Linked DNA regions of Homo sapiens: regions 2, 3, 4, 5, 6 and 7 are each linked to region 1. The links come from fine-mapping of genetic effects on plasma protein levels. A gene starts in region 1. Each other region holds a variant in brackets. All regions are shown on one strand. Distances are between the middles of the regions. Region 1 holds the start of MDK (midkine). Region 2 overlaps CSTPP1 (centriolar satellite-associated tubulin polyglutamylase complex regulator 1). Region 3 has its middle 14 kb from the start of LINC02710. Region 4 overlaps AGBL2 (AGBL carboxypeptidase 2). Region 5 overlaps CSTPP1 (centriolar satellite-associated tubulin polyglutamylase complex regulator 1). Region 6 has its middle 13 kb from the start of NUP160. Region 7 overlaps PTPRJ (protein tyrosine phosphatase receptor type J).

The links. PIP is the chance, under the fine-mapping model, that this variant and not a neighbour inherited with it causes the effect. Protein levels are from antibody-based Olink assays in UK Biobank. Linkage for the fine-mapping came from a reference panel and not from the study's own genotypes, which makes the PIPs less certain.
Region 2: its variant is fine-mapped to the plasma level of the MDK protein (UK Biobank, PIP above 0.99).
Region 3: its variant is fine-mapped to the plasma level of the MDK protein (UK Biobank, PIP above 0.99).
Region 4: its variant is fine-mapped to the plasma level of the MDK protein (UK Biobank, PIP above 0.99).
Region 5: its variant is fine-mapped to the plasma level of the MDK protein (UK Biobank, PIP above 0.99).
Region 6: its variant is fine-mapped to the plasma level of the MDK protein (UK Biobank, PIP 0.92).
Region 7: its variant is fine-mapped to the plasma level of the MDK protein (UK Biobank, PIP above 0.99).

What each region holds. Positions count from the first base shown.
Region 1 is chr11:46,381,307-46,385,608 of GRCh38, forward strand. It overlaps MDK (midkine), which reads left to right and starts at 363. Exons shown (of 5, transcript NM_002391.6): 1 at 363-452; 2 at 751-827; 3 at 988-1,155; 4 at 1,281-1,442; 5 at 2,163-2,495. The coding sequence starts at 752. The coding sequence ends at 2,188. It overlaps CHRM4 (cholinergic receptor muscarinic 4), which reads right to left. Exons shown (of 2, transcript NM_000741.5): 2 at 2,483-4,302. The coding sequence ends at 3,812. RefSeq lists silencers at 1-67, 498-607, 1,028-1,077, 1,053-1,347.
Region 2 is chr11:47,128,873-47,133,185 of GRCh38, forward strand. The region is part of intron 3 of CSTPP1 (centriolar satellite-associated tubulin polyglutamylase complex regulator 1); the gene reads left to right. LOC124902671 (a long non-coding RNA gene) reads right to left here. Exons shown (of 2, transcript XR_007062666.1): 2 at 1-1,986. Among named protein-coding and RNA genes, the nearest start is that of ARFGAP2, 46 kb to the right of the region's middle. The variant C/T (reference allele first, on the strand shown) is at 2,334.
Region 3 is chr11:46,203,214-46,207,526 of GRCh38, forward strand. No RefSeq gene overlaps it. Among named protein-coding and RNA genes, the nearest start is that of LINC02710, 14 kb to the right of the region's middle. The variant A/G (reference allele first, on the strand shown) is at 1,994.
Region 4 is chr11:47,702,330-47,706,642 of GRCh38, forward strand. It overlaps AGBL2 (AGBL carboxypeptidase 2), which reads right to left. Exons shown (of 19, transcript NM_024783.4): 5 at 3,535-3,588; 6 at 3,192-3,305; 7 at 2,214-2,399. Among named protein-coding and RNA genes, the nearest start is that of AGBL2, 11 kb to the right of the region's middle. The variant T/A (reference allele first, on the strand shown) is at 2,393.
Region 5 is chr11:47,054,187-47,058,499 of GRCh38, forward strand. All of the region lies in intron 3 of CSTPP1 (centriolar satellite-associated tubulin polyglutamylase complex regulator 1), which reads left to right. Among named protein-coding and RNA genes, the nearest start is that of CSTPP1, 120 kb to the left of the region's middle. RefSeq lists an enhancer at 3,069-3,618. The variant T/G (reference allele first, on the strand shown) is at 2,661.
Region 6 is chr11:47,859,238-47,863,550 of GRCh38, forward strand. No RefSeq gene overlaps it. Among named protein-coding and RNA genes, the nearest start is that of NUP160, 13 kb to the left of the region's middle. RefSeq lists enhancers at 2,488-2,557, 3,943-3,992. The variant A/G (reference allele first, on the strand shown) is at 1,977.
Region 7 is chr11:48,022,380-48,026,692 of GRCh38, forward strand. The region is part of intron 1 of PTPRJ (protein tyrosine phosphatase receptor type J); the gene reads left to right. Among named protein-coding and RNA genes, the nearest start is that of PTPRJ, 44 kb to the left of the region's middle. The variant G/C (reference allele first, on the strand shown) is at 2,573.

The sequences.
Region 1 (4,302 bases):
TGAGAACGGCCCGGGCCTTGGCGTACGGCAGGGGACGACCTGGGATGGGGGCAGCGGGCGGCGGCGCAGGGAGTGGGCCGGGGGCCGGTGTGCGCGGGCGGGACGGGGCCCGGGGTCGGGAGACCACCGCTCGGAAGATGGGGCCGGGAGAGGCCGCCGTCGCAGCGCAGAGGGCACCGGCGGGGAGACGCGAGGACGCGGGGCCGGGAACACGGACGCCGGAGTAGAAGCGCGGGGGGCGCGGGCTGGAGCGGGGGCGGGGACGCCGGGGTCGGGGGCGGTGCGGGTTTGAGGGGAGGGGGCGGGGCGGGTCCTTCCCTGGGGGGGTGGGGAGAGGGGGCGGGGGCCCATGTGACCGGCTCAGACCGGTTCTGGAGACAAAAGGGGCCGCGGCGGCCGGAGCGGGACGGGCCCGGCGCGGGAGGGAGCGAAGCAGCGCGGGCAGCGAGCGAGTGAGCGCGCGGCGGCCCCTGGTCCGCCCGGCCGCGGCCGATCTAGGGGCTGGGGGCTGGAGGCGGGGGTGGGGGTCTGAGCTGCGTCCTGGGCTCGAGGCGTCCCCCGGGGAGTCGCCTCTTAGCGGTGCGTCCGGGCTAGCGGCGAGGGGCCGCCCCAAGTCTTCCCACCGCCGCCACCTTAGCAGCCCGACTTGGGGCCTGGAAAGTGGAGCACGCGGAGGTGGGAGGGCCCTGCACGCGGCCCCCGGTGGGGAAGGGGACGGGCCAGGGATTCAGACTCGGGCTCTCCCCTCAGGATGCAGCACCGAGGCTTCCTCCTCCTCACCCTCCTCGCCCTGCTGGCGCTCACCTCCGCGGTCGCCAAAAAGAAAGGTGATGGGGGATGATCGAAGGAGGGCTGGGGACGGGCAGGCGAGGCCCCTCCACTTCTGGGCTGGGCCGCCTGGGTTCCTAGCCTGGAACCCCAGGAAGGCGGCTCCCGAGGGAGTCTCCCCGTGCCCCAGTCCTGAACTCTGTTCCTCGCGCGTTGTAGATAAGGTGAAGAAGGGCGGCCCGGGGAGCGAGTGCGCTGAGTGGGCCTGGGGGCCCTGCACCCCCAGCAGCAAGGATTGCGGCGTGGGTTTCCGCGAGGGCACCTGCGGGGCCCAGACCCAGCGCATCCGGTGCAGGGTGCCCTGCAACTGGAAGAAGGAGTTTGGAGGTGAGGCGGGGCGCAGTCAGAGGGCAGGAGACGGGGGGCACAGCCTCGCCGAAGCCTGGGCGGACCCTTGGCGGAGGGCGGGGCCGCGGGCCGCGCAGCGCTGACCTGGGCCGCTCTCTCGCCAGCCGACTGCAAGTACAAGTTTGAGAACTGGGGTGCGTGTGATGGGGGCACAGGCACCAAAGTCCGCCAAGGCACCCTGAAGAAGGCGCGCTACAATGCTCAGTGCCAGGAGACCATCCGCGTCACCAAGCCCTGCACCCCCAAGACCAAAGCAAAGGCCAAAGGTCAGCGAAAGGAGAAGGGGGTGGGGCTGTCGCGGGGGGCTGCCCCCCCCCCCCCCCGCCTGTGAGGGGACAATTCCAAGTTAAACCTTAAGTTTTGAGTCCTGGCCAGTGGCTTCCTGACATCGCCTCACTTGGCTTCCCTGCCTGGAAAAGTCTGAAGATGGGCACTACAAGAGAGGCCGCAGGTGATGCTGGGGACATAAATCCTCCCTGGCCCAAATAGGGACCAACTCAAACTACTCCATTGGAGCATCTGGCTTAGGACCCAGGGAGAGTGTCCTGGAACGGCTTGCCTTTGTCAGCTCTCCAGCCACGGGCAGCATTTGGTCAGCTCTGCCCTTTCTAGTGTTGGGAGGAGGTCAAGGCCCACCCTGGGCCTCTCAGCTCACTCGTGACTCAGCCCAGCGAGGCCAGCAGGGCAGGGGTGAATCTGCCCGCTTCTCAGGTGAGGAGGCTGAGGATGCCCAGGGCTGCTGTGACCAGGACTAGGACTGGAAACTTGAAGGTTTTCTGATCCCAAGTGGAAATAGGAAGCTGGGGATGTCCCATGTCCACATCACAATGGCTGCCCCATCCCCTGCTTCCGAGTCAGCTGATTGGAAACCACTAGGGGGCAGAATCTTCTCCTTCCCTGATGCCCGGGTGTTTGTGGAGCCGGCGGTCTGCAATGGGTCAGCCTAACTGCTGATATGGTATTAATATTTCTTTCTTGTTTTACAGCCAAGAAAGGGAAGGGAAAGGACTAGACGCCAAGCCTGGATGCCAAGGAGCCCCTGGTGTCACATGGGGCCTGGCCCACGCCCTCCCTCTCCCAGGCCCGAGATGTGACCCACCAGTGCCTTCTGTCTGCTCGTTAGCTTTAATCAATCATGCCCTGCCTTGTCCCTCTCACTCCCCAGCCCCACCCCTAAGTGCCCAAAGTGGGGAGGGACAAGGGATTCTGGGAAGCTTGAGCCTCCCCCAAAGCAATGTGAGTCCCAGAGCCCGCTTTTGTTCTTCCCCACAATTCCATTACTAAGAAACACATCAAATAAACTGACTTTTTCCCCCCAATAAAAGCTCTTCTTTTTTAATATATAAAAGCCCCTTCCCAAGGAGTTTGCTGTGGAAATGTGTTTGGGAGTGGGAAGGTGGGGAGAAAGACCAGGCTGTAGGGACTGGTGGGTTTCAGGGGGCTTGGTGGTGGGTGCTCTCCAGAGCTCATGGAAAAAGCAGAACAATTACAAACATTTCTTCCAGGGCCCCTGAAAGGGTGCTCCCCATCAAGTCACCTAAGCCTTTCGGTCCTCATCTCCCTCAGGGACCAGGGCTGGGGAAGGGAACCTGGCTGACTCACTGGAACCACCACACCCATCTCAGCCTCACCCAGTCAAAGGTCTTTTGATACAACCCACAGCCAATCAGGAAGGTTCTACCCATGGGGGAGAGCAGATGCGAGGGCTGCGTGCCTACCTCACTGCCCACCTCCCCCCTTCCCACTGTCATGGAAACCCGAGTGAGCCACCAGGTTGACCCCTTTCCTCTTGCCTGTGTGACCCAGGCCTCCACCCTGCAGAAGCCAGGGGGTGAGAGGTTTGAAGAGGGCAGATGGGAATGCCATCCACCACAGCCTCACCCTGACTCGATGTGTGACCTGGGACAGCCTTCTAAGGCCGGGGCTGCAGGGGGCTGTCTTCTGAATACGTGGACCACTCACGGCTCAGCCTGGGATCGCAGAAGGCCAGACCTCAGTTCCTGAGACAGAACCTCTGACCTCCCAGCTGCCCCATCTTAATGTGACAAGGGCAGTGCTGCTGGGGCGGGGGGGACCTGGCCTCCATCATACCCACCCAGAACCTGGCTAAGTAGCTGCAGCCAGAGGAGATTTCTGCCCCTGGAGTGGGATTTGGGGAGAGGGGGCTGAGCCTACATGCGGGGTGCAAGGGGGCAGAAAGCACCGATTACAGCAGAATGGGGGACCCCACCCTTCTACTCCCTTCCCAAGCCTCCTTTTCCAAGCACTGGCCCCTTTGTTCTTCCTGAGGGGGCCCTGGGCTTCGGCCCCCATCCAGATGTCCATTCTTCCAGCACTGCTGATGGTTGGTCACAGTGGGGCAGGTGCCCACCCAGGCCAGTGCCCCGCAGCTCGCTGAAGCAGGGCCACAGAGGTGGGCCAGGCAGCCCCAGTTCAGACACTCCCTGGGGTGAGCCTCCTCAGCCTGAGCAGAGATCTGGTCTCTGAATGCAGCCACAGAGCCTCTTCTGAACTTCCTCCTCAGCAAACGTGAACGCAGAATGGTGCCTGCAACTCTTCCCCACAGCAAGTGAGCCGTGTGGTCCCCCCAGCACACGCACGCAACACCAGCACCTCCTAGGGCACTCCTGCCTGCCTACCTGGCAGTGCCGATGTTCCGATACTGGCACAGCAGCAGGTGCCGGAAGGTCTTTTTAAAGGTGGCGTTGCACAGAGCATAGCAGGCAGGGTTGATGGTGCTGTTGACGTAGCAGAGCCAGTAGCCAATGGACCACACCGTGTCAGGGATGCAGCTCTGGCAGAAGGTGTTCACCAGGACCATGACGTTGTAGGGCGTCCAGGTGAGGATGAAGGCTAGCAGAATGGCAAAGATCGTTCGTGTCACTTTGCGCTCCCGGGCCGCCATCTGCCGCTTCTTGCGCACCTGGTTGCGAGCGATGCTGGCGAACTTGCGGGCCACGTTGGCCGCAGGGCGCATGCCAGCCGGCGTGGCAGGCACAATCTCAATGGCTGTCACACACTCATTGCCTGTCTGCTTCGTCACAATCTGGATCTTGGACCATCTGGAGGCTGGGTTGAGGGCCCGCGGCTGCAGGGGAGGGGCGGGCATGGCGGGCGTGGTGGCCT
Region 2 (4,313 bases), 750 kb after region 1:
AAACTTTTGCCCCCCTAAAACAACATAAAAACCTTCATTCTGGCTTTAAACACCCCCCAGAAATAAATTTAAAATTCTGCCTCTTTTTCAAAGGTTGAGTGAGGTATATCACCATTGGGAGGGTGTGATGTTTTCTCTTGCCTTTAGTCACCATTAGGAGGGATTAAGGTTTATTCTCCAGTTTAGCTCTTGTGCCTGTTTAACCATTTCTGTTCAATTAAGAACAGGAATGGGTTGCAGGAGTTTGTAACAACACCTGCTTCTTGGAGGAGAATTATAACTTGGCCCTGAGTTGTCCGTTTCAAAGGGCCCACCCTGTCCTCCTGTTTCCAAAGAAAAACTGGAAGTGGTAACACCTGGTGGAGCTGCATGAGCACGTGAGTGGTGGTGCAAATTCTAGGCTGGAGTCACTTCTTTGATGGGCTGCCGGAGCCTTTGAGAGCTTATGGTGCCAAGATCCTGCTCTACATTCTAGTGTCCAAAACTGCCTTCCATTTCCTCAATAATGGGTAGGAAACTGTGTCCATGCCAGAGTAGCTAGCCCCGTTGCTACTAGAGAGGCTTTCTTTTCTCCTAGCACTGGTGCCTCCTTCCACAATGCATACGGCTGCCCACCCTCGCCATATGCAGCCTGTGTTTCATATCCTCACACTTTCTAAGACAGGACCTCCCCCAGAACAAAGCCTTGCCTTGGTCCTCCAATCCCTAATGGCCCCATCGTGATGAACAGACCCCCAAGGGTTCGACACAGTATAGGGGATTCTTATCAGACCAGGCCTGTGGTTTAAGCCACCAGTGGTGGTTCAGGATGGCCATGGTTAGCCTAAAAACCTGATCAGATTGCCATGGTATGTCCTACATGACCCTGGGTAGAATGTTGAGATCCTGGTTAGAAATGCCTGCATTTCTTTAAATCTTTACCTGCTGTATATAAACAGTTCCTGGAGAGTTGTTTTTGTTCATTTTAAACGTTGCCATAAAATTGTTACTGTGTCTGATTTAATACTTTGCCTAGAACAAAGATACTGCCAAATAGAAATAGACTAAATACATTTCTAGCTTGGTGTCTGGCTTAGTCATAATAAAATATAAAACTAAAGGGGCAGCCGGGTGCGGTGGCTCACGCCTATAATCCCAGCACTTTGGGAGGCCGAGGCGGGCGGACCACGAGGTCAAGAGATGGAGACCATCCTGGCCAACATGGTGAAACCCCATCTCTACTAAAAGTACAAAAATTAGCCAGGCATGGTGGCAGACACCTGTAGTCCCAGGTACTCGGGAGGCTGAGGTAGGAGACTCGCTTGAACTCGGGAGGCAGCGTTTGCAGTGAGCCGAGATAGCGCCACTGCTCTTCAGCCTGGCGACAGAGCAAGACTCTGTCTCAAAAAAAAAAAAACCAAAAAAAAACTAAAGGGGCTTTCTGCCCCCATTGGAACACACTGAAGATGCTCTGGGGAGTAATGAGCTGGCAAAGGGTAGTGTTCATAATGGCCCAAATACTTTACCCCACAGGTGTCATTCGAGGCCATTGCCTCTTATTCCTTTTGTAAGGTCATTTCCCATTCAGTCAACTAATTATCATTTCCCTCCATTTATAATATAAAACAACAGTGCTGCCAGAGGAGATAAAATTGAATAACACAGCCTTCTCTTCTTCTGGGGCTTTGCTTGACAGGAACATGGCCCTAGTAGGGTAGCAATCTTTCTGTGACATGTGATACCAACTGCTACATGGGGAGTGAAGTCGTCAGATGTCTTGCCTCCTTCTTCCCTTCCCCCACACTGTCCCTCACTCCCTTCCCCCTCCTCACAGAGTAGCACTGAGAAGTATTTACTCAGCTGTGGCCTGGTAACAAAGCCTTGGTGCCCCAGGGATTGGAAGGGGTGGTGTGGTCATGCCCCGAACTATCCATGTCCTTCCGAGCATCTCTTGGCAGAGCAGCCTGGCTGAGGATGAGTGTCATTTAGAGTGAGCCTTCACAACCCCTGCATAAAAGAACATAAAAACAATTGCAGCTGAAAATTGGAGAGTCCACACATGGGCTGTGGTATTCTCTGGCCTCTGTGGTAGTACTATTGAGATCATGCAGCCAACAAACTAGAGGCTGTTCAGTCCTCTGGGACTCCCATGGCTTGTAGCATTTCATTATCTTTAGCTCTTGTCCAGCACTAGCTCACTCAACCAACATATAGGCACTCACACAAATGAATTTAGACTGAGCCCCATTTCATCCCCCATAAATTTAGAGCTAAAAGTCTTTGACTTCAGGCTTTAGGGAAGGTTTTCTCTGAAGGAATGAATATATGGCCCCACTTCCTTCCATCTGGCACTC[C/T]TCCATGGGTATTCTTTAGTGACACCACTGTGATCCTGGCAAAGGTACCATTTCCCAGGAAGAGGAGAGGTATCCGATCTACAGCTATATTCCACCACAGTTCTGAGCAAATGTGGACACGCATGGTGGTCTGCAAGGAGGATGTAGAAATGACTAAGCTGCTCCCACAGAGCTTCAGAAGCAGGACTTGCCACAGCAAGAAGGCAGACCAGATGTCAAAAAGACATCCTTTTCCTACAAATGAGAATGAGTTAGCCCTTGAATATATTGGGAATCAATAATTTCTGACTAATTTTCTTAGCTAAAGTAAATTCATCTAACACTCTCTAGGATTAGAGTGGATATAACCAACAGAAGAATATTTTGAGTCAGGGCAGTGCTTATCTTGAAAGCAGTAGTATTCATGCTAGAGTTGTAACAGCAATAAAGTGAATTTCTGTGAAGTGAACCCTAGGCTTCCTTTGGTTTTCATGGAAAAATCAGTGACATGGCCTGGCGCAGTAGCTCATGCCTGTAATCCCAGCACTTTGGGAGGCTGAGGCGGGTGGATCACCTGAGGTCAGGAGTTCGAGACCAGCCTGGCCAACATGGTGAAACCTCACCTCTACTAAAAATACAAAAATTAGCCTGGCGTAGTGATGCATGTCTGTAATCCCAGCTACTCGGGAGGCTGAGGCAGGAGAATCGCTTGAACCCAGTAAGCAGAGGTTGCCATGAGCCGAGATTGTGCCACTGCACTCCAGCCTGGGTGACAGAGTGAGACTCTGTTAAAAAAAAAAAAGGAAAATCAGTGATACATTCTTATGAAAAGAAATATTCAAGCTGATTGAACTGAGCACTTGGTGCAAAGGCCAACAAGCCCATGAAGTGTAGTACACTGGTCATGGTTTATCATGTTTACTGACAGTTATAGTACCTAGCACGTAGGGGATTTTCCTTTTTTCACACTTTACAACTCCTGGTTTCTCCTCATACCCCTGTAATTTTGCAGAAATGCCTCCTGTGCCTGGAGACCCCCTATCTTTGTGTTCACACAGTAACCAGAACTTTTTCCCTATGAATTTTTATTTGGGTCACTGTGTGAGGCATGTTTTTATTTATTCATTCCTTCAACAGGTGTTTACTGCAATGCACCAGGCATTGTGCTGATTGCTTTAGCTAAGTTCAAAGATTCCTTAATTTCAGGACTTCAAGTTTTAATCAGTTAATAATTATAAAATAATGCTACCACTTATTGAGCACTTTGCTAACTTTTTTCAGAAAAGTGTATATGTTACCTCTTTTGATCTTTTACAACAATTCCATTAGGTAGGTACTGTAGTTCTTACACTTTTAAGACAAGGAAACCAAGGTTCAGGGAAGTTGTACAGCTTGTCTAAGTCATGCTGGTGGCAAGTAGTGGAGCCAGGTTTTTGAAGCCAGGTCATCTGATTGCAAAGTCAGAGTTCTGCACTAATACAACTGCCCTGCCCAACTACCCTGTGCTGTTTAAAGTGGCCTGCCTGAAGGGTACCTGTATGTTTAACTTAGATAGAAAATCTGTCAGTCACCTGGTGTGAATAATCCTAACATCAGAAGTCCTTCACAAACCAGCTGGATCCCACCTGCTAGGGTGGAACTTGCAGGACCTTCAGAGCCTGTGCTAGGCCTAGGTCTGAATCTCAGCCCTCTTCCTAGCTGTTTCCTTGAGAAAATGATTACACCTCACTGAGCCCTAGTTTCTTTATTTCTAAAATAATAATAGCAAGTACTAACAGATGGCCCTTACGATGGGTCAGACACTGTTCTAAGCACTTTACATTAACTCATAACAACTCTGCAATGTTCATACTGTCATTTCATAGATGGGGAAACTGAGGCATGGAGAGCTTAAAAGTCAAGTAACTTGAAGTCAGTGGCAAAGCTAGGATTTGGACCCGAACAATCTAACTCCAAAGTCCATGCTATTAACCACAATGCTATGCTGTGCTGCCTCTGGAG
Region 3 (4,313 bases), 180 kb before region 1:
GGCAGGAATGAACTTGGTAAGTCCAAAGAATGAACTGATGTGGCTGGCGTTGAGGCAGCAAATTGGGAAATGACCAAATGGGGCTGGAGGGACACGTAGACAACTCTTTTGATAAATTTTGCTACAATAAGGAACACAGAGCTAGTGCAAAGAGCCAGGGAGCAATGAGTTCTACGGAAGGTGTTTCTGTTTTGGTTTGTGTTTTGTTTGAAGATGGTAAGTATTACAGCATACCTGTGTGCTGAAAGGTAAAGCGCCATAGAGAGGGAGACGTCAGTGATTCATGAGAGAGATCATTTCATCAAAGTCCTTGAATAGGTGAGGGCAAACGGGATTCAGGACCCCAGGGGAGGGATGGGCATTGTACACGCATAAGGATGGTTTGCAATTTGCAATACGAGGGAGGGCAGGGCCTGCACATACAGCGGTTGGAAGTGGGTAAGTTTAGCAGTGGGTAATGAGCATTCTGAGGGCCTCTATTTTCTCCGTGAATAGGAAGATGAGATCATCAGCTGAGAACCAGGCAAGAGAAGGATATTAGAGTTAAAGAAAGAGAAGGTATAAAACGGCTTGAAGAGAGGCAGAGTGCCTGAGATACTGAAGTAGGATTGTTGGGCAATGCAAAAACAGCCACTTATTGGCAGACTTCAGTATAAAATGAGGCGTGTCTGGGCAGCTGTGGGTATTTTCTTCAAGCCATGTTCCAGTGCCCAGATGGAGGCACGAAAAGTTAAGTTCTCCCTTGAGTTGAAGCAGGGTTGGGGTGTGGCAGATGAGTGCAGCAGGGCAAGAGTATTATAACGGTGTTACGGAGCAATTACAGAGCGATGAGGACACTGGGGCATAATGAGGAAATGAAGGGCCTGGGTCATGGGTGGTGAAGGACAGTGAAAAAGCGGTGGGGGGGTCAGTGGACTGAAGACCCCAACAGGGGTAGGAAATTGCTGAAATGGGAGTTCTAAGACAACTGAGTAAGGAATACCTGTGTCCACAGTCTAACAGGATGATTGAAAGGGAAACTTGAGCAGCGCTGTGGTTATGATGAGGTTTGTGTGGGGCTCTATGGCTAAGGTGGAGTGGAGGAGGCATCATGGCATGGAGGCATCAAGAATGGAGGCAAGGTGACTAGGTGCGGTGGCTCATATCTGGAATCCCAGCACTTTCGGAGGCTGAGGTGGGTGGATCATCAGGTCATGAGATCGAGACCAGCCTGGCCAACACAGTGAAAACCCGTCTCCACTAAAAATACAAAAATTAGCTGGGCGTGGTGGCGCACACCTGTAATCCCAGCTACTCAGGAGGCTGAGGCAGGAGAATCACTTGAACCCAGGAGGCAGAGGTTGCAGTGAGGCAAGATCGTGCCATTGCACTTCAGCCTGGACAACATAGTGAGACTCTGTCCCAAAAAGGAAAAAAAAAGAATGGAGGCAAGATGATGCGTGGCCATGTATGTGGATCTTAAATTCACCATGACAGTGACAGCAGGAGAGAAAGTCAGTGAGCCAGGTGGCCAAATTATCAATAAACACGTGAGCAGGCAGGTAAGACCACACAATAGACAATTTGACGACAGGTGCTCCCATTTTTCATGTTTATATGATTATTTGGCTAATGTTGATTTCACCTACTACACACATCACCCACTCTACACATCAGTAAGGAAGGGGCATGGCTGTTTGTGCTCACCACGTGATCCCTAGCATCTAGCTTAGCACATAATAGATACTTATTTAAAACTTCTTGAACAAATGCCTGAATACTGTTCTCTGGACTTGGAGAAAGAGAGAAGAGGGGAAGCGGGGATCCAATAATTGGCCCTTTTCTCTTGCCATTGAAGTCCTCAGCAGAGTCCCAATTTGCAGATACTTCTGTCAATGGTCATTCAACTACCGTTCACAAAATACCTCTTAAGTGCCAGGTCCTGTGCTATGCGCTTCAAAGAGAAGTAAGACTTGGTTGCTTTTGGAGATCTCTGAGTGTATCCAGGCAGACT[A/G]ATGAATAAATAACTTCAATACAATGTGAATAGAGCAATGACAGAGGTATGAGCAAAATGCTCCTAGACCGCAGAATCTGACTGCCTAGGGGACAAAGGAAAACTGTGGAGACAGGTAATGTCTGGAGAATGAGGAGGGTCAGCTACCAAGACAGGTGGATGTCAGGCAAGGAACCAGTCTCTACAAAAGCATCAAGGATGGGGAAAGCTTGGCAAATTAAGAGGTCTGATGAGGCTAGAAATTAAGACAAAAATGTCATCTGGCCTTTAGATTTATGTCAATTGGTTTGCAACAAGGATGTCTAGACAATTCAATGGAAAAAGAATGGTCTTTTTTTTAAATGGTGCTTGGACAACTGGATACCACACGGAAAAGGATGAAGTTGGACCCCTACTTCAAACCGTCTACAAAAATTAACTCAAAATGGATCAAAGACATAAATGTAAAAGCTAAAACTACAAAAACTCTTAGAAGAAAACATAAGCGTAAATCTTCATGAGCTTGAATTAGGCAATGGTTTATTACATATGACACCAAAAGCACAAACTAAAATGAAAAAACAGATAAATTGAACTTCATCAAATGTAAACACTTGTGCTTCAAAGGAGACCATCAAAAAAGGGAGAAGAGGCCAGGAGCAGTGGCTCACACCTGTAATCCCAGCACTTTGGCAGGCCGAGGCGGGCAGATCACGAGGTCAGGAGATCTAGACCATCCTGGCTAACATGATGAAATCCTGTCTCTACTAAAAATACAAAAAAAAAAAAAAAAAAAAATTAGCCGGGCGTGGTGGCAGGTGCCTGTAGTTCCAGCTACTTCGGAGGCTGAGGCAGGAAAATGGCATGAACCCGGGAGGTGGAGCTTGCAGTGAGCCGAGATCGCGCCACTGCACTCCAGCCTGGGCAACAGAGTGAGACTCCATCTCAAAAAAAAAAATAAATAAAGTGAGAAGAAAACCCACAGAATGGGAGAAAATATTTGCAAATCATATATCTGATAAAGGACTAGTGTCCAGAATTTATAAAGAACATTTACAACTCAACAATAAAAAGATAAACTTTTTTTTTTTTTCAGATGGAGTCTCACCCTGTTGCCCAGATTGGAGTGCAATGGCACAATCTCGGCTCACTGCAACCTCTGCCTCCTGGGTTCAAATGATTCTCCTGCCTCAGCCTCCCAAGAAGCTGGGATTACAGGTGCTCGCCACCACGCCCAGCTAATTTTTGTATTTTTAGTAGAGATGGGGTTTCACCATGTTGGCCAGGCTGGTCTCCAACTCCTGACCTCGTGATCCACCTGCCTCGGCCTCCCAAAGTGCTGGGATTACAGGTGTGAGCCACCACACCCGGCCCAGATAAACTATTTTTTAAATAGGCTAAGGATTTAAATATTTTTTTCTCCAAAGAAGATATACCAATGACCAGTAAACAAATGAAAAGATGCCCAAGATCATTAGTCAGTAGGGAAATGAAAATCATAACTACAGTGAGATGCCACTTCATACCCACTAGGATGGCTAGAATTAAAAAAAAAAATAGACATTGGCCAGGCACGGTGGCTCACGCCTGTAATCCCAACACTTTCGGAGGCCAAGGCAGGTGGATCACGAGGTCAGGAGATCGAGACCATCCTGGCTAACATGGTGAAACTAAAAATACAAAAAATTAGCCAGGCGTGGTGGCGGGCGCCTGTAATCCCAGCTGCTCAGGAGGCCGAGGCAGAAGAATAGCTTGAACCCGGGGGCAGAGGTTGCAGTGAGCTGAGATCGCGTCACTGCACTCCAGCCTGGGTGACAGAGCGAGACTCTGTCTCAAAAATAAATAAATACGGGAGGCTGAGGCAGGAGAGTCGCTTGAACCTGGGAGGCAGAGGTTGCAGTGAGCCGAGATCGTGCCACTGCACTCCAGCCCGGGCGACAGTGCAAGACTCAGTCTCAAAAATAAATAAATAAAATTTTAAAAAATAAAATAAAAATAAACTTCTTATCTAATTATAATAATTGATGGTAGAAATTTTGGAAAATATAGAAAATTGCAAAGAAGAAAATTAAAATCATCCGTAATCCTTCTAATTAAAATGTCTACTGGCATTTTAGTATATTTTTCTATGAGCAAACATCATTTTTAATACCTTGTAAGAGGCTATCCAATATCATAAATCAAGGATCCCCAACTGGTCTGTGACCTGTTAGGAACTGGGTTGCACAGCAGGAGGCAAGCAGTGGGCAGGCAAGCAAGGGAAGCTTTATCTGTATTTACAGCCACTCCTAGCTCGCATCACCGCCTGAGCTCTGCCTCCTGTCAAATCAGTAGCAGCATT
Region 4 (4,313 bases), 1.3 Mb after region 1:
TCCTTTAGATCTCAGCTTAGTTGTCAACTCCTTTTGAAAACTTATGCTGATCTCTAAGCTGGGTTAGGTATGCTCAGAGGGACCAAGCACTATGCAATTGTCTGTTAAAATGTTTAACTTCCCCACTAGTTCATGAACTCTGGGTCCATGAACTCTCCACTTTGCTCATCACTACTATCTCTAGCACCAAGCACTGTACTTAGCATATAACAACACATATGAACGAATATTATAAAGCAGGGAGACAGAAAATGAGGAACATCCAGCTGGGTGCGGTGGCTCATGGCTGTAATCCCAGCACTTTGGGAGGCCGAGGCGGGTGGATCATGAGGTCAGGAGTTCGAGACCAGCCTGACCAAGATGGTGAAACCCCGTCTGTACTAAAAATACAAAAATTAGCTGGGTGCGGTGGTGGGTGCCTGTAATCCCAGCTACTCCAGAGGCTGAGGCAGGAGAATCGCTTGAACCCGGGAGGCGGAGGTTGCAGTGAGCCGAGATGGAGCCATTGCACTCTAGCCTGGGTGATAGAGCAAGACTCCGTCTCAGAAAAAAAAAAGGAACATCCAGTTGTTTATTCAGTAGTATAAAGCAGAGACATACGTGATGTTTGCTAGACTTGTTCTGGTAATTAGAGAAGTCCCCACTTTCTAATGCAACCCAATTCCATAAATGCTTAATCCATAAAATGGATGCAGAAGATTGTACTTGCTCCAAGAGCTCACAGGTATGACCCATAATGTCATAAAAAAGTCTCCACCATTCCGACAAGAAAACTCCAATAAACTCAAAATATAAAATTAAATTAATTTTATATTTAATTAAAAACTGTAAAAACTATGTCGTGGTATATGTAGTCTTCAATTATACCAAGACTGGTAAAAATACCACACAACCAAACACATTAATACTGAGACAGGGTAGCACCCCTGTATTTTTAGATAAGATGCTATGCCCTCTCTCCAAAAAATGAAAAAGAAAAGAAAAAAACCACTGAAACAGGTTAATCTAGAAAACAGATTTCAGTATTTATATATTTTGGCTTCTAGGAAGGTATCCTCTCATTCTGAAAAACTCAGAAGCATTCTAGTTTACACATTAGTGTAACTTGATTTTGGTGAGTTTATATCAGTTTCTCACAGTTTAATTTTTTCCAGGGTGAGTTAATAAATGTTGACTCTAGGCTGAGTGCACTGGCTTATGCCTGTAATCCCAGCACTTTGGGAGGCCAAGGCGGGTGGATCACTTAGCATCAGGAGTTTGAGACCAGCCTGGCCAACATGGAGGAACGCTGACTCTAATAAAAATAAAAAACTAGCCGGGTGTGGTGGCTCACATCTGTAATCCCAGCACTTTGGGAGGCCGAGGCGGGTGGATCACCTGAGGTTGGGGAGTTCGAGACCAGACTGACCAACATGGAGAAACCCCGTTTCTACTAAAAATACAAAATTAGCCGGGTGTGGTGGCACATGCCTGTAATCCCAGCTACTCAGGGGGCTGAGGCAGGAGAATCATTTGAACCTGCGAGGCGGAGGTTGCAGTGAGCCGAGCTCATGCCATTGCACTCCAGCCTGGGCAACAAGAGCGAAAGTCAGTCTCAAAAAAAAAAAAAAACAAAAAAAAAACTAGCCAGGCGTGGTGGCCAGGCATCTGTAATCCCAGCTACTTGGGGGGCTTAGGCAGGAGAATCACTTGAACCTGGGAGGTGGGGGTTGCCATGAGTCGAGATTGCGCCACTGCACTCCAGCCTGAGTGACAGAGTGAGACTCTGTCTCAGTAAATAAATAAATAAATAAATGTTGACTCTGTCCTGCCTTATACTTAAGCACGTAGGACTTAACATTCTCAGATCTTGTAATAAAGTCAGGCAGAAGGCCGGGCTTGGTGGCTTATGCCTGTAATCCCAGCACTTTGGGAGGCCAAGGTGGGCGGATCACGAGGTCAGGAGTTCGAGACTAGCTTTGCCCACATGATGAAACCCCGTCTCTACTTAAAAATGCAAAATTAGCTGGGCGTGGTGGTGTGCGCCTGTAATCCCAGCTACTCAGTAGGAGGCTGAGGGAGGAGAATCCCTTGAACCTGGGAGACAGAGGTTGCAGTGAGCTGAGATTGCGCCATTGCACTCCAGCCTGGGAAATAGAGTGAGACTTCGTCTCAAAAAAAAAAAAAAAAAAGTCAGGCAGAATAGCAAGACCACTGTGAGTAAGTCATATTACCAATATGATGGATGTTTTCCTTGATGACCTCACATTCAATTGGCCATCTTGGAGCCTGCAGTGGCCTCTTGGTAGACAAAATGGAAAAGAGCTCTTGGGGTTCTCGAAGACGTGGGTTTACTTCATCCAACTCATCATAAAGAAGCTGTCTGCTCCTAAGATGTGGTAAACTCAGCATA[T/A]GTGAATCTGCCAAAGGGAAAGAGAGTAAGTGAACATCTTCCTTTTCCTCCTTGGGAACTTTACTGCTCATCTATAACAATGAAACTATTTTAAGCATTATATTAAAATATTAGCACAGATATGTGATTCTCTGACATGTTTCTCCTTCAAGAAGATTTAGTCCAGAATAACAGGTTCAAAATTATAAAACGTTAAAATTCTGCACAGTCTATTAAATGTTTAAATATAAAGCTTTAGGGTAAATTAAAAACCTTTTAAAAATTAAATTTAATGGTCCAAGACATTTCAACAGTGGGTTACAATGAATAAGAAGTTACTTAATATGTTTTATTATTTTTGTTTAGCTAGTGGCAAGAGAGGAAATTTCAATATATCCATTAGCATTTTAGAAAAAATTACATAAAACTTTATTCTTTTTTTCTTCTTTTTTATCAACTATAGTGAAATAATCTATAAATAAAATTTCAGGGCCATAATATAACCATACAAAGGAAAGACAGACATAAAACAAAGAAGATGGAAAGAGGAAGGGGAGAGAAGGCATGAGATGGGGCAGAAGAGAGGAAGAGCTCTTGGGAAAGAAAGAATGAGAAAAAAGGGAAGAAAAGAAAGGCTTTCAGGAAGATAAAAAAGAAAGGAGGGGCCAGGCGTGGTGGCTCAAGCCTGTAATCCCAGAACTTTGGGAGGCTGAGGCGGGCTGATCATCTGAGTTCAGGAGTTCGAGACCAGCCTGGCCAACGTGGTGAAATCCTGTCTCTACTAAAAACATAAAAATTAGCTGGGCGTGGTGGCACATGCCTGTAATCCCAGCTACTCGGAAAGCTGAGGCAGGAGAATCCTTGAATCTGGGAGGTGGAGGTTGCAGTGAGCTGAGGCCGCGCCACTGCATCCAGCCCAGGCAAGAGTGAAAGTCTGTGTCAAAAAAAAAAAAAAAAGAAAAAGAAAAAGAAGAAAGGGAATGAGGAAAAAAGAAAAAAATGGAAATGAAAGGGGGAACTAAAGGCTGAGGGTCCTTCAGTGCTCATCAGGCATGAATCCCATTCCTGTCTGGTAATTCTTAGGTCTGGTGGGAACAGCAGGTGATGAAGACATAGTCCAAAAAAGGAGCTTGAATCTTCTGGTCTGGAAGGACATGAAATACCTCTGTTGATGGCTTCTATCTGTCTGTGCACAGCTGAAGATAAACTGATAGGCCCTAGAAAGAGGAAGAGGAGGCACCCTTGGTGTCAGGGATCGTTGTCTTCTTTTCTTCTGTCTGCTATCCCCATCCCTTCTCATTTCCTATGCTCACTCTGGACCCCTGCATTTCTATCTAAATCTTTCTCCCATACTTTAATGGGGGAAATAAAAGGAAATAAACATTTGAAAAGATAGTAAAGCTGCACAATGTCACTCATAACTAAAGAAATATAAAGCAGTTTGGGCACGGTAGCTCACACATGTAATCCTAGCACTTTGGGAGGCCAAGGCGGGCGGATTACCTGAGGTTGGGAGTTCAAGACCAGCCTGGCCGGCTGGGCGCGGTGGCTCATGCCTGTAATCCCAGCACTTTGGGAGGCTGAGGTGGGCGGATCACGAGGTCAGGAGATCGAGACCATCCTGGCTAACATGGTGAAATCCTGTCTCTACTAAAAATACAAAAGATTAGCCCGGCGTGGTGGCAGGCGCCTGTAGCTCCAGCTACTCGAGAGGCTGAGGCAGGAGAATGCCGTGAACCCGGGAGGCGGAGCTTGCGGTGAGCCTAGATTGCGCCACTGCACTCCAGCCTGGGGCACAGAGCAAGACTCCGTCTCAAAAAAAAAATAAATAAAAATAAAAATAAATAATTGTGGAATATGACAGGTGCCCTTATAAAGAATGGGGTAAAGGCAGGAGAGGTGGCGTGTGCCTATAGTCCCACCTAGTCCAGAGGCTGCAGGG
Region 5 (4,313 bases), 670 kb after region 1:
TGTAGTCCCAGCTACCCGGGAGGCTGAGGCAGGAGAATGGTGTGAACCCAGGAGGTGGAGCTTGCAGTGATCCAAGATCGCGCTACTGCACTCCAGCCTGGGTGACAGAGCAATACTCCGTCTCAAAAAAAAAAAAAAAAAAAAAAAGACCCTGTTGCCCAGGCTGGAGTGCAGTGGCATGATCATATGATCATAGTTCACTATAACCTTGAGCTTCCAGGCTCAAGTGATCTTCCTAACTCAGCCTCCCAACTAGCTAGGACTACAGGTACATGCCTACCATACCTAGCTAATTTTAAATTTTTTTGTAGAGACGGGGTTTTGCTGTGTGGCCCAGGCTGGTCTCAAACTCCTGGGCTCAAGGCCTCAGCCTCCCAAAGCACTGGGATTACAGATGTGAGCCACCATGCCCCATCTTATTTGAAGGCTTTTAGATAGGAGAGTGGTGTGGTGATATCTGAGCTCTAGAAAGATCATTCAAAAGGCAGTGTAGAAGATGGCCTAGACTAGAGACAAGGAACATAGAAGTCTGGTAGTAGTTGAGTGAGAGATTAGACCCAACACTAAGGCAGTATGGAGACAGAAGGGGCACTTTCAGAGATAGAATCCATAGGATTTGGTGATTGGATTTGGCATTAAGATGAGAGAGAAGACCGTGGTAATTTCCAAGTTTTTGGCTTGGGCCACTGGGTAAGAATATTTTTTAAAAGCCTTCAAGTAATAGCCACAGAATAAATTTCAATTTTTTTTTTTTTTTTTTTTTTTTTTTTTGGAGACAGGGTTTTACTCTGTCACCCAGGCAGGAATACAATGACACAATCTCAGCTCACTGCAGCCTCGACCTTCCAAGCTCAGGTGATCCTCCCACCTCAAGTAGCTGGGAATATATTTGTGCACTACCATGTGTGGCTAATTTTTCTATTTTTTATAGAGTTGGGGTTTCGCTATGTTATCCAGGCTGGTCTCAAACTCCTGGGCTCAAGCCACTCGTCCACCTCAGCCTCCCAAAGTGCTGGGGTTATAGGCGTGGGCTACCATGCCTGGTCTCCTACTTTCATATTATGTGTTTTCATAAATACCTTTAAGACAATTTCTTGCTTGCTTGCTTTTCTTTTTCTTTCTTCTTTCTTGCCTTCCTTCCTTCGTTCCTTCCTTCCTTCCCCTCCCTCCCTCCCCTCCCTTCCTTCCTTCCCCTCCCCTCCCCACTGAGGTTATAGTCAGTGAATAGGTAGTCTCCCTGCTTTTGAATTTATGAGATTCCCCACCATGCTCTAATCAATGCTACTGCTACGAAACTGTAACTTTTCTAAATAGCTACTAAATATATAGCTATTAAACTTTTATATGTAGTTACTAAATCTTTTCTAAAACTTTTCCACCCAATATCTTATTAGTTCCACTGCCCTAAGAAATAGGTAAAGTGGGTATTATTGTGCCCATTTTGTAAATAATGAAATTGTGTAACTTGCAGAAAGATTTCATGGTGAATTAGTAGCAAAGCTAGAAATTGAACCCAGATTTACTAATATGCTGATGTGCTATTTCTACTATTTTTACTTCAATCATTGCCTCTTTGACATATAACTCTGGAGATCATGCATCTCCATTACAGTATTATGAAAGAAGTACTTAGTGTACTGAGGATCGTATCATTTCCCTTACAGAATAAATGCACTAATAGGCAAAAACCAATGTGGACTCAATTTTAAGTTAAGTAATTCAGAAAAACTATTCCATTGGTCTCTATGTAAACAAAACTGGGAACTGTGAGTATATAGGTAAAGCTCGTGCTATGTTATCAGAGGTTATCTTTCCCAGTCCCTCACTCAGTCAGCAAATATTTGTTTTAGACCACCTAGTACAGTCGTCTCTCAGTCTATGCAGGGATTGGTTCCAGGACCCCTGTTTATACCAAAATCCACGCATAATCAAGGCCTACATTAGTCCTGTGGAACTCTCATATGTGAAAAGTCAATCTTCCGTATACAGGGCTTCATATCCCTAGAATAGTGTATTTTCGATCCATATTTGGTTGAAAAAAATCCACCTAAAAGTGTGGACCTGCACAGCTGAAACCTGTGTTGTTCAAGGGTCAGCTGCATGTTGAAGAATATGGCTAGAGCTAGTTTCTGTGATAGAACATATGGAGATAACTATGGAAAACAGTCTTCAGATAGCCTTAACTTTTTTCCTGATATAGAAGTGGGGCCTCTTCAAGAATGTATTTACTATCACGAGGGATTCATATAGCATTTGGACTCTTAGCAGATGTGGGTTTCTTTATCTTTCTAATAGCAGCTGCCAGTGACTCATCCAGCTGCTAAGAATAAGCAGCTCCAAATTCCCCCAGTTTCTCCTTGTGCCATAAACAAGACCTAGATTTTATGCTGGCTGTTTATTGTTATCCTTCTTAATCAGACAGCCTCAGATTTCTTAGACTAAATGCAACATCTGTGTCTAGGTGTTCCTAAAATAATTGGTTAAGTAGCTTTAATGTATTCTCAGCTTTTTCTAGGAAACTCCAGAACATCTTTCTAAACCAGAATGTGTCAATCTCCAATTTTAATCCGGAATTAGTGAAAACTCTTGGCGGCAAGGTTCTAAAGGAAAGGATTTATTAAGCCCCATTTTATCAATTATAATGCCAGGTACCTACCTAC[T/G]CAGTGGAACTCCTACTGCATTATTCTTCTGCAGATAACTTCCTTAGAATGTCATGTGCATACTTTAGCATTATCAAGTGGAAAGTAACTCTTCTGGGAGGTAGCAAAACAAGAGCATAACATATCTAAAAATGAAGCCACCTGTAGAACTCTAAGGACCTGGTCCCTTTTGACAAAAAATATTTTATTCCAGTTTTTAGCAAGTACAGGATATGATATCTTTTCTGCATGACTGAGTACTGATGCTAATTATCTTGTCCAAATTTTAGATAATCTCATGAAGACTGTAACAAACCTCTTGGTATCTAAGCAACTTTAGACTCTTGGAAGCAAAAGTTATATTAGAATTTTAAAAGCCTTTAAAATTACACTTCTCACTTTGCTAATTTTTTCTGTATAGGAATATTAATCTGAATTTTCTAAGTCTGGCAAAGATTGATATTCTCTTAATGTAAATCTTTACTTCTGTTTAGGGATATCGGCTCAAAAGTGCCTTCTCCAAGTTTATTTTCAATTAGAATTTAATTTTCAATATATACATATATACACATACATACATATATATATTTCATTTGATAAAATAATGATAGGTACTTCCTCTTCTATCTGTGAAGAAGTATCTACTAAGGGAATTGCCCTCTTGCCACTAACAATGAGAAAATCAGCATATCTGAAACAACAGTTTTCAGACATTGGGCAATAGGCAGTGGGGGCTGTGGATTCTGAGAGCCAGTTTCCAAGCAACAGTATAGGGAGAGAGATTGTCAAAGAGCTTAGCAGTGTTATTGAGTTGAGGAGGCAGAGACTGGGGTTTAGGGAGGCTGGAGCAGCCAGTATTTACAGGTCAGAATCCAAGAGAGGAAGAAGTTGTTCAGTGAGCTCCAGAATCTTTGGCTACAAATTCTGCATATGTGTGGGCTGGAAAAAGAACCACCAGAAAACAGTGGGCCAAACAATTTCTGGAGTATACAAGGGGCTAAGGATAATTCAAACTTCTACCAGCCATAGGGAAGAGACCTCAAAACACACCGGGCACTGGGTAGAGTTCTCAACAGTTTAAAAGCAAAAAGGATTAAATCGATCCGCAAGTAATTTAATGCTATATAAGAACAAAATTCAATAATCTTTAAAGGAATTTAACAAAATCCAGCATTCAGCAATGCAAAATTCACAAAGTCTGACATCCAATTCAAAATTACCAGACAGGCCAGGCATGGTGGCTCATGCCTACAATCCCAGGACTTTGGGAGGCCAAGGCAAGTGGATCACTTGAGCCCAGGAGTTCATGACCAGCTTGGGCAACAGAGCAAAACCCTGTCTCTACAAAAAATTTAAAAAATTAGCCAGGTGTGACACCTGTGGTCCCAGCTACTCTAATGGCTGAGGCGGGAGGATTGCTTGAGCCTGGAAAGTTGAGGCTGCAGTGAGCTGTGATCGCACCACTGCACTCAAGCCTGGGCAATAGAGTAAGACCCTGTCTCAAAAACAAAACAAAACAAAATAAAATTACCAGACATTAAAAGAAGCAGGAAAATACAGCCCATAACCAGGAGAAAAATTAATCAATAGAAACACAGATCCAGAAATGACAGAGATGATGGAATTAACTAACAAGGACCTTAAAATAGTTATTTTAAATCATATAAATATGCT
Region 6 (4,313 bases), 1.5 Mb after region 1:
CAGTGAGCCAAGATCATGCCACTGCACTCCAGCCTGGGTGACAAAGCAAGACTCTGACTCAAAAAAAAAAAAAAAAAAAAAAGGCCAGGTGCGGGGGCTCACCCTTGTAATCCCAGCACTTTGGGAGGCCAAGGCGGGTGGATCATGAGGTCAGGAGTTCAAGACCAGCCTGACCAACATGGTGAAACCCAGTCTCTACTAAAAATACAAAAATTAGCCAGGTGTAGTGGTGTGTGCCTGTAATCCCAGCTACTTAGTAAGCTGAGTCAGGAGAATTGCTTGAACCCGGGAGGCGGAGGTTGCAATGAGCTGAGATCATGCCACTGCACTCCAGCCTGGGCGACAGAGTGAGACTCTGTCTCAAAAAAAAAAAAAAAAAAGAAAGGAGTACCTCAAAAAGAAAAAGTGATTTGCCCAGGCATTTAGTCAGGCAATTCTATTAGTTGTGTCTGAATCCATTCTTTAAACATTTTAAAATGCTTTTAGCTCCTAGCAACCATATCCAAAACAAAGGAAGCAAACCCTTGTATTTACCTACAGGAAATAGAAAGATGCAGGTCTGGCTGTTGATCACTGATTCCACCATGAGCCAGAAAATTTTACTTCATTTGGCCAAACCCCGGGACAGTTCAGTAGGGATTGCTGTTGACACAAATAGGGGTTCCAGTTCCCACTGTTAACTAACCACTTGGCCTTGGCAAGTCACTTCATTTCTCTGGGCCTCAGTTTCCTCATCTGTAAAATGAGGCCTCTGGGCTTCATGATCTCTTAGGTTTCCTGGTTCACAACTAGGAAAATGCTAAGATAAAGGTATAGGTATAAACATCTTTAAAAAGTCAGAAAAACATCTATAACATTTCAAAAGAACAATCTCTAGTGGATAAAAATATGTGTACAGTACAGTTGACTCAGCAATTTCACTCAGAGTTTTATCCTAAGGAAACAATCACAGATATGCTTCAAGATACAAGGATTGACGGGCGTGGTGGCTCATGCCTATAATCCCAGCACTTTGGGAGGCCAAGGCGGGTGGATCACCTGAGGTCAGGAGTTCGAGACTAGGCTGGCCAACATGGTGAAACCCTGTCTCTACTAAAAATACAAAAAAATTAGCCGGGTGTGGTGGCACGTGCCTGTGATCCCAGCTGCTCAGGAGGCTGAGGCAGGAGAATCGCTTAAACCTGGGAGGCGGAGGTTGCAATGAGCTGAAATCGCGCCACTACACTCCAGCCTGGGCAACAGAGCGAGACTCAAAAACAAACAAAAAACAAGGATGACTGTCACAGTGTTTGCTTTTTTTCCCAAAATAAACATTTAATTTTAGAATAGGTTTAGATTTACAAAGAAATTGTAAAGGTAGTACAGAGATTTCCCGTATACTCCATCTATTCTCTCTCCCCAGCTCCCCTATTGTTAACAGTTTATGTTAGTATTGTCAGAGGCGTTCGAAACAGAGCGACTCCATTTTGAGTGAGGGCTGGAAAAATGAGGCCAGGACTTGCTGAGCTACATTCTCAGAAAGTTAGGCATTCCTAACCTCTAGATGTTTACGGCTAAGGGGACAAATTAATAATGCTTACTGAACAGACCCAGACTTGGGAGTGTCCAGATATCCCGATATCTGGAGAACAAAGGCATTCCTAATTTTGCTTTAAAGATAATAATATTGATTTTTGAAAAATATAGTAATTAAAAAAACTTAATCCTTTATCACAAACCCTTGTAGCAGAGCACATCTCCCCATATATACAAGCTTTGTACCTAGGGTGGATGCGTTCCTCCTCTTACTTTTGGGAACATCCTACTCTGTCTATGGAGTAGCTGTCCTTTCACCACTTTACTTTCCTAATACACTTGTTTTTGCTTTGCACTGCGGACTCACCCTGAAGTCTTTCTTGTGTGAGATCCAAGAACCCTCTCTTGGGGTCTGGATCGGGACCCCTTTCCTATCTGTAACAGTATGAAACATTGGTCAC[A/G]ACTAATGAACCAATACATATATATATATATTTTTGAGACAGAGTCTCGCTCTGTCACCCAGGCTGGAGTGCAGTGGCCTGATCTCGGCTCAGTGCAATCTCCACCTCCCTGATTCAAGCAATTCTCCTGCCTCAGTCTCCAGAATAGCTGGGATTACAGATGCCTGCCACCATGCCTGGCTAGTTTTTGTATTTTTAGTAGAGATGGGGTTTCACCATTTTGGCCAGGCTGGTCTTGAATTCTTGACCTCAAGTGATCTGCCCACCTCAGCTTCCCAAGGTGCTGGGATTACAGGCATGAGCCACCATGCCCAAACTAATAAACCAATATTGATACAGTATTATTAACTAAAATCCATACTTTTTTTCCCCCAATTTTAAGAGACAAGGTCTCATTCTGTCGCTCAGACTGGAGTGCAGTGGCATGATCATAGCTCACTGCAGCCTCAATCTCCCAGGCTCAAGTGATCCTCCCGCCTCAGCCTCCTGGGTAGCTGGGACTACAGGCACATGCCACCATGCCTGGCTAATTTTTAAATGTTTTGTAGAGATGGAATCTCTCTATGTTGCCCAAGCTAGTCAGGAATTCCCCTTGACAGTTTTGAGAAGTACTGAACAAGTATTTTGTAGAATGTCTTTTGTCTGATTTTTCTCTTAAAAAATCATGATTAGATTAGGGTTATGAGAGGAAGACCACAGAGGTAAAGTGCCATTCTTGTCCCAGCACAGCAGCAGGGGTACATGCTGTCTGCGTGACTTTTCGCTGATTATGTTAAGCTTAGTCACTTAGCTGAGGTAGTGTTTGCCAGATTTCACTGAGCTTTTTTTTTTTTGAGGCGGAGTCTCACTCAGTCTGTCACCCAGGCTGGAGTGCAGTGGTGCGATCTCAGCTCACTGCAACCTCTGCCTCCTGGGTTCCAGCGATTCTTCTGCCTCAACGTCCTGAGTAGCTGGGATTAAAGGTGTGTGCCACCACACCTGGCTAATTTTTGTATTTTTAGTAGAGACAGGGTTTCACCATGTTGGCCAGGCTGGTCTCGAACTCCTGACCTTGTGATCCGCCTGCCTCGGCCTCCCAAAGTGCTGGGATTACAGGTTTGAGCCACGGCGCCCAGCCTCACTGTGCTATTTTTTTAAAATAAAAAAAGTTCTCAAGCAAACTATAGGTCAATAGAGGACTTTAAACTCCATGGGGGCAAGATCTTTGCCTGCTTTGCTCACCACTGTGTATCCAGTGCTGAGCACATTTCTGACAAATAGTAGGTGTTAATTAGAATTTGTTGAAAGAGGGTCAGGCATGGTGGCTCACGCCTGTAATCCCAGCACTTTAAGAGGCCGAGGCGGGTGGATCACCTGAGGTTAAGAGTTTGAGACCAGTTGGCCAACATGGTGAAACCCCGTCTCTACTAAAAGTACAAAAATTAGCTGGGCGTGGTGGTGCATGCCTGTAATCCCAGCTACTTGGGAGGCTGAGGCAGGAGAATCGCTTGAACCTAGGAGGCAGAAGTTGCAGTGAGTCGAGATCATGCCACTACACTCCAGCATGGGCCACAGAGCGAGACTCGTCTCAAAAAAAAATAAAAGAATTTGTTGAATGAAAAAGTGGGAAGATAAATAAATTAACTTCTCCAATATGATGGAATACTGGCAATTATCATAAACATTTGATGATGTGAAAAAATGTAAAGTATTTATTGCTCAGTGAACAAAACAATTAGAAAACAATTTCTATACATTCAGTTTTCTATGAAGTGTGTTTGTGTGTGCAGAAAAATAACTAGAAGAATGTTGTCAACATGTTAACAGTGGTCGTTGGTTATTGCTGGGTGGGAAGGGAATGGGGATTTTTATTTTTTTCTTTGTTCCATATTTTTAAAAATTGTCACAATAAAAAGGAATTACTTTTTGAATCAGAAAAAGGAATAAAAATGGAGAAAAGTTTTAAACTTCAAAAAGATTCCCGAGCAAGGAAAACAGATATTCCAATACAATACTCAGCAACCACGTTATTTAGCCATGTATTAGTATCTGTGAAGGAACTGAAATCAGTGGTGCAGTGCAGAGAGGGTGTTGTCCTCAAAGTTCTGCAGTTTCTAGGAAACAGGGTACACTAGGCACCATCTGTTTCTGATTTAGAGCATTAGAGTTACAAGATCATAAGCCGTATCTTTGTTACTCTCATAACAAATTGTTTAAAGTTAAAAAAAAAGAGTAAAGAGCAAAACCAAATGCACAGGATGCCAGAGTGAATGGCATTATTGTATCATTTGCTTTCTCTTCCCAGGGGCTTTGCATTTTAAAAACACATGTTGTGGTTTTTCTGTGATTATCTTTCCA
Region 7 (4,313 bases), 1.6 Mb after region 1:
CTTGAACCTGGGAGGCAGAGGTTGCAGCGAGCCGAGATCGTGCCATTGCATTCCAGCCTGAGTAACACGAGCAAAACTCCATCTCAAGAAAAAAAAAAAAAATTAAGATGATGAAGATGCAGCGTGGGGCCATGAGAAGAGTCCTGGTCTGGTGAGTTTGGAAACCTGGCTTCTGGCCTGTTTCTAACACTGTATGTCCTTGGGCCAGACCCTTTCCCCTGGGGTGCTGATTTCACACCTGTAAAATGAAGAAGTTTGACTTGCACAGTGCTTTTCTTAGACTGTGGTAAGGGGTGGATGTGGGGGTAGTGCCAAGACCAAGTGAAAGAGGCTTCTGGACCTCCATCCTTGCTTCAGCCAGAGCAGCGTGGGTTCATTTCATTTTTGGATTTTGGTTTGTGGGAAGAAAGGGTTCTCTTGCCGGTGTGTGTGTTTCTGATAAACAAAGAAGTGTGGAAGTGGCTGAATGAGATGACCCAAGGACTCTTTCTGGGAAGATGCAGGAGGAAGTAGGTGAGCTGAGGGGAAGCTGGTGGGGATAGGCCTGGTGGGGCCTGGGGAGAAGGATTTGAAGGCTCAAGTCACACGGTGCAGGATGGGACTCAATATAGGGTGGGATAGGGCGGTGGGTAAAAGCCGTTACAATTTTGTCCAAATGGTATGGGCTGATTTACTTATTAGGGAGGTACAAATGGCTTCGTGTTATAAAGTGTCAAGATCCTTATTTGGATAAGGCAACCAGAGTGTAGACGAGAGAGTAAGAGTAAGAAAACAAGGAGAAAAATGAGTGTCTTAAGGATGTAGAAATTTAGTTTGCTGGAAGTCTCTGCAGCCTGAACAAAACAGCTGTTAGGTTTGCCAGAACTTAAACCAGAGGGTGCCTGCCAGTGGTTCATATTCTTGCTACCTCTTCCTCCTCTTGTCTTGTTTTTCCTTTCCATTCTAATAATCACGATGAGTTTCCCTGACATGCACGCCCCTTCATTCATTTGTATGATCACTTAGAGATGAGGAGCTGCCTTGCCAGGTAGAAAAACCATTCTCAGGATGAATCTTTGGCTTTCTGAATCAGAGTTTTCTTTGGGTTTTAGAACTTCATTCTTATTAAAGTGGGAATTTACCGGCCGGGTGCGGTGGCTCATGCCTGTAATCCCAGCACTTTGGGAGGCCAAGGCAGGCCAATCGTGAGGTCAGGAGTTCGAGACCACCCTAGCCAATATGGTGAAACCCCGTCTCTACTAAAAATACAAAAATTAGCTGGGTGTGGTGGTGCGCGCCTGTAGTCCCAGCTACTTGTGAGGCTGAGGTAGGAGAATCACTTGAACCTGGAAGGCAAAGATTGCAGTGAGCCGAGATCACACCATTGTACTCCAGCCTAGGCGACAGAGTGAGACTCGGACTCAAAAATAAATAAATAAATAAATAAATAAATAAATAAATAAATAAATTGGAATTTAATATCTCTTATCATTTCTTCAATTCCAGTTTTTATTAGATCCACAACTTTTTTGGTCAAAACCAGAATTTTGATTATGTGTGCCATCCTAGGCTACCTCACCATCCAAAAATCCTCTTGGAAAACCCCACGCTTATCAGGAAAAGGAGATGGAAGTGAAAAAATAAAAATATATATAAAAAAAGGAAAACCTAGTGTTAGCACCCCTTATCCAGCAGGCCCCCCACCTGGACCCCCACCTGTATTCACATTCCTCCCACACTTACAGTCAGTGGCTTCATTAATCTCTAAGGTTCCATGTTCTGCTCCCCAAATAGACTGTTTGCTCATTGAAGACAGGCACCACACTTACATTTTTTTTCTTTCTTTCTTTTTGTTTTGAGATGGAGTCTCACTCTGACGACCAGGCTGGAGTGCAATGGCGTGATCTTTGCTTATTTCAACCTCCGCCTCCTGTGTTCAAGGAATTCTCCTGTCTCAGCCTCCCGAGTAGCTGGGACTACAGACGCATGCCACCACAGCCGGCTAATTTTTGTATTTTTACTACAGGCAGGGTTTCACCATATTGGTCGGGCTGGTCTCGAACTCCTGACCTCAAGTGATCCACCTGCCTTGCCCTTCCAAAGTGCTGGGATTACAGGCGTGAGCCACTGTGCCTGGTCTTATATTTCTTTTCTATTTTTCTACCCTGATCAACCTTTTCTTTTCTATCTCTCTCACTGTTTCTACGATCAAAGTAGTGGAGTCAGTTTCCTTGCATCTGTCCCAAGCAGCCGTTGCTAATGGGAATGAGTGTCAGGCACTGTACATCAGCCCTGTTTTGAAACTCTGTGCCTGCTGCCTCATTGACTAGCTGGAGAGTGTTGAACATTTGGTTGTAGAATGTATGTGGATTGCTGAGTTTCACGCATGAGCTGTGTTGTCATTTCATTCATTCTGAGTGGCATCTGCGCCAGGGCTACCTGGAGTTTTTCCAGCTCCCCAGGCCTAGCAAAGGCAGGGATCCTGTCTCATTCAGCTGCATTTCTTGAGCTGTGCTTAGAAGGCCTGCCACACAGTAGGGAATCAGGAACAGTCGCGTTTACAGAGCTCTCGGGTGATAGAAGGGAAAGTAAA[G/C]GTATATTAAATTTCTTCTAGGCTTGCTGCCTAATCCCCTAAGGGGCCTTCTCATTTCTTTCAGCAGTGCCATCTGGCAGGCCTGAGAGTATATGGGAATAAGTGGGGTGCTGGATCTTGTGGGCAGGCTATGGGATCTGGGAAAGGGGTTAGCACCTGGGCCTGGAGGGACCTGGAATCTAGGGGGGGCATACATCTAAGCTAAATGTGGCTGTGGCTTGCAAACTCAGAGGCCTTTCGGGCAGCCTGGTGAAATGATAAATGGGCAGTTGCTGTTTATTCTCAGTCCTAGAGATTAAAAAGAGGTGCCCCCATTGGAAACTGGAGGTTACATGTTCTACCCAAAGGGAGCAGCTGCCAGTCGGCTTCTTGCGATGTGAAAGTACAGCCCCAGAAAACCCAGGTTAAGTGATGTCCCCTAATTTTTAAAAGTTGGCAACCAATTCAACTATAAAATCATGCCTGCTGGCCTCTGAGCAGTAGGCAGGGCTGGTGTATGCCGGAGGCCACCAGGGGACATAACACCTGCCATAGGGTCAGAATAGGTGGGTGTTAGTCACCATCCAGATGGTCAGATACCGGAATTGCCACAGAAATGAACATGACATGCAGAGCAGGCAGAGCAGGTGCCAAAAGTTGGTATCAAGGAGGCGAAGGTCAAGTTCTTTGCCCACCAGAAAGCCTTCTGTTCCTTGTCTCCTTCCCTTCCTGCACCTCCAAGGACTCTCCACTGCTCCCTACAGCTTAAGTCCAAATTTCCCTGTCTGGCATTCAAGGTCTTCCATACCTTCCTTACAAGTGCCCTTTAGGCGCTCTAAATGGCGCGTCAGCTCCTATGTGTGGCCTCAGCTTAGCAGTCCAGTGTTCCCTCCCCCTGAATCCCTCCAGACTGCCCAGGCTGCATCTGCCTCAGACAGCCGGGTGTTCCCAAGACATGCTGCACTTTCTTCCCTCTCTGATTTGCTCATGCTGCTCCTCTTCCTGGAATGCTCATCCCCCCAATTATGGAAATCCCACTCCCCACTCATCCTTCAAAAGGCTCTGGACAAAAGGCACATTCTCCCTGAAGTCGGCTACCCTCCCGACTCTGTAAATTTGGAATAAATCACATCTTTCAGCTTCTATAGCACTCACCCTGCATCTCCACCACAGCCCTTATGACATAGCTGTTGAGAAAGGTCTGTCTTCCTTGGTAGATGATGAGGTCATTGTGGAAGGTTCGAGTCTTACTTACTGTGTCCACAGCATTTGGCTCAGGGCAACAGTCAACAGAGGCTTAGTGACTTAGACACTTGATGGTAGAGTATGGAAAACTGATTCTCATGAGGAAGGTGCTTAAGGTCTTTGGTAAGCCTGGGAAAGGGGCAGTTGGCTGGAACAGAGGGTGTGAGAGGAGCAGGTAAAGCTGGATCCAGCTCTCTTTCAGCCCAAGGCAATACCTAAAACCCTATCTCTGACTTGGAAAGGCAGTATCCTGCTGTCTTCCTGCTGTGGCCATGAGCCTCACTGGGGCTTGACTTGAATGTTAGGACTTTTTTTTTTTTTTTGAGACGGAGTTTCGCTCTTATTGCCCAGGCTGGAGTGCAATGGTGCGATCTTGGCTCACCGCAACCTCTGCCTCCCAAGTAGCTGGGATTACAGGCGCCCGCCACCATGCCCAGCTAATTTTTGTATTTTTAGTAGACATAGGGTTTCACTGTGTTAGCCAGGATGGTCTCCATCTCCTGACCTTGTGATCCGC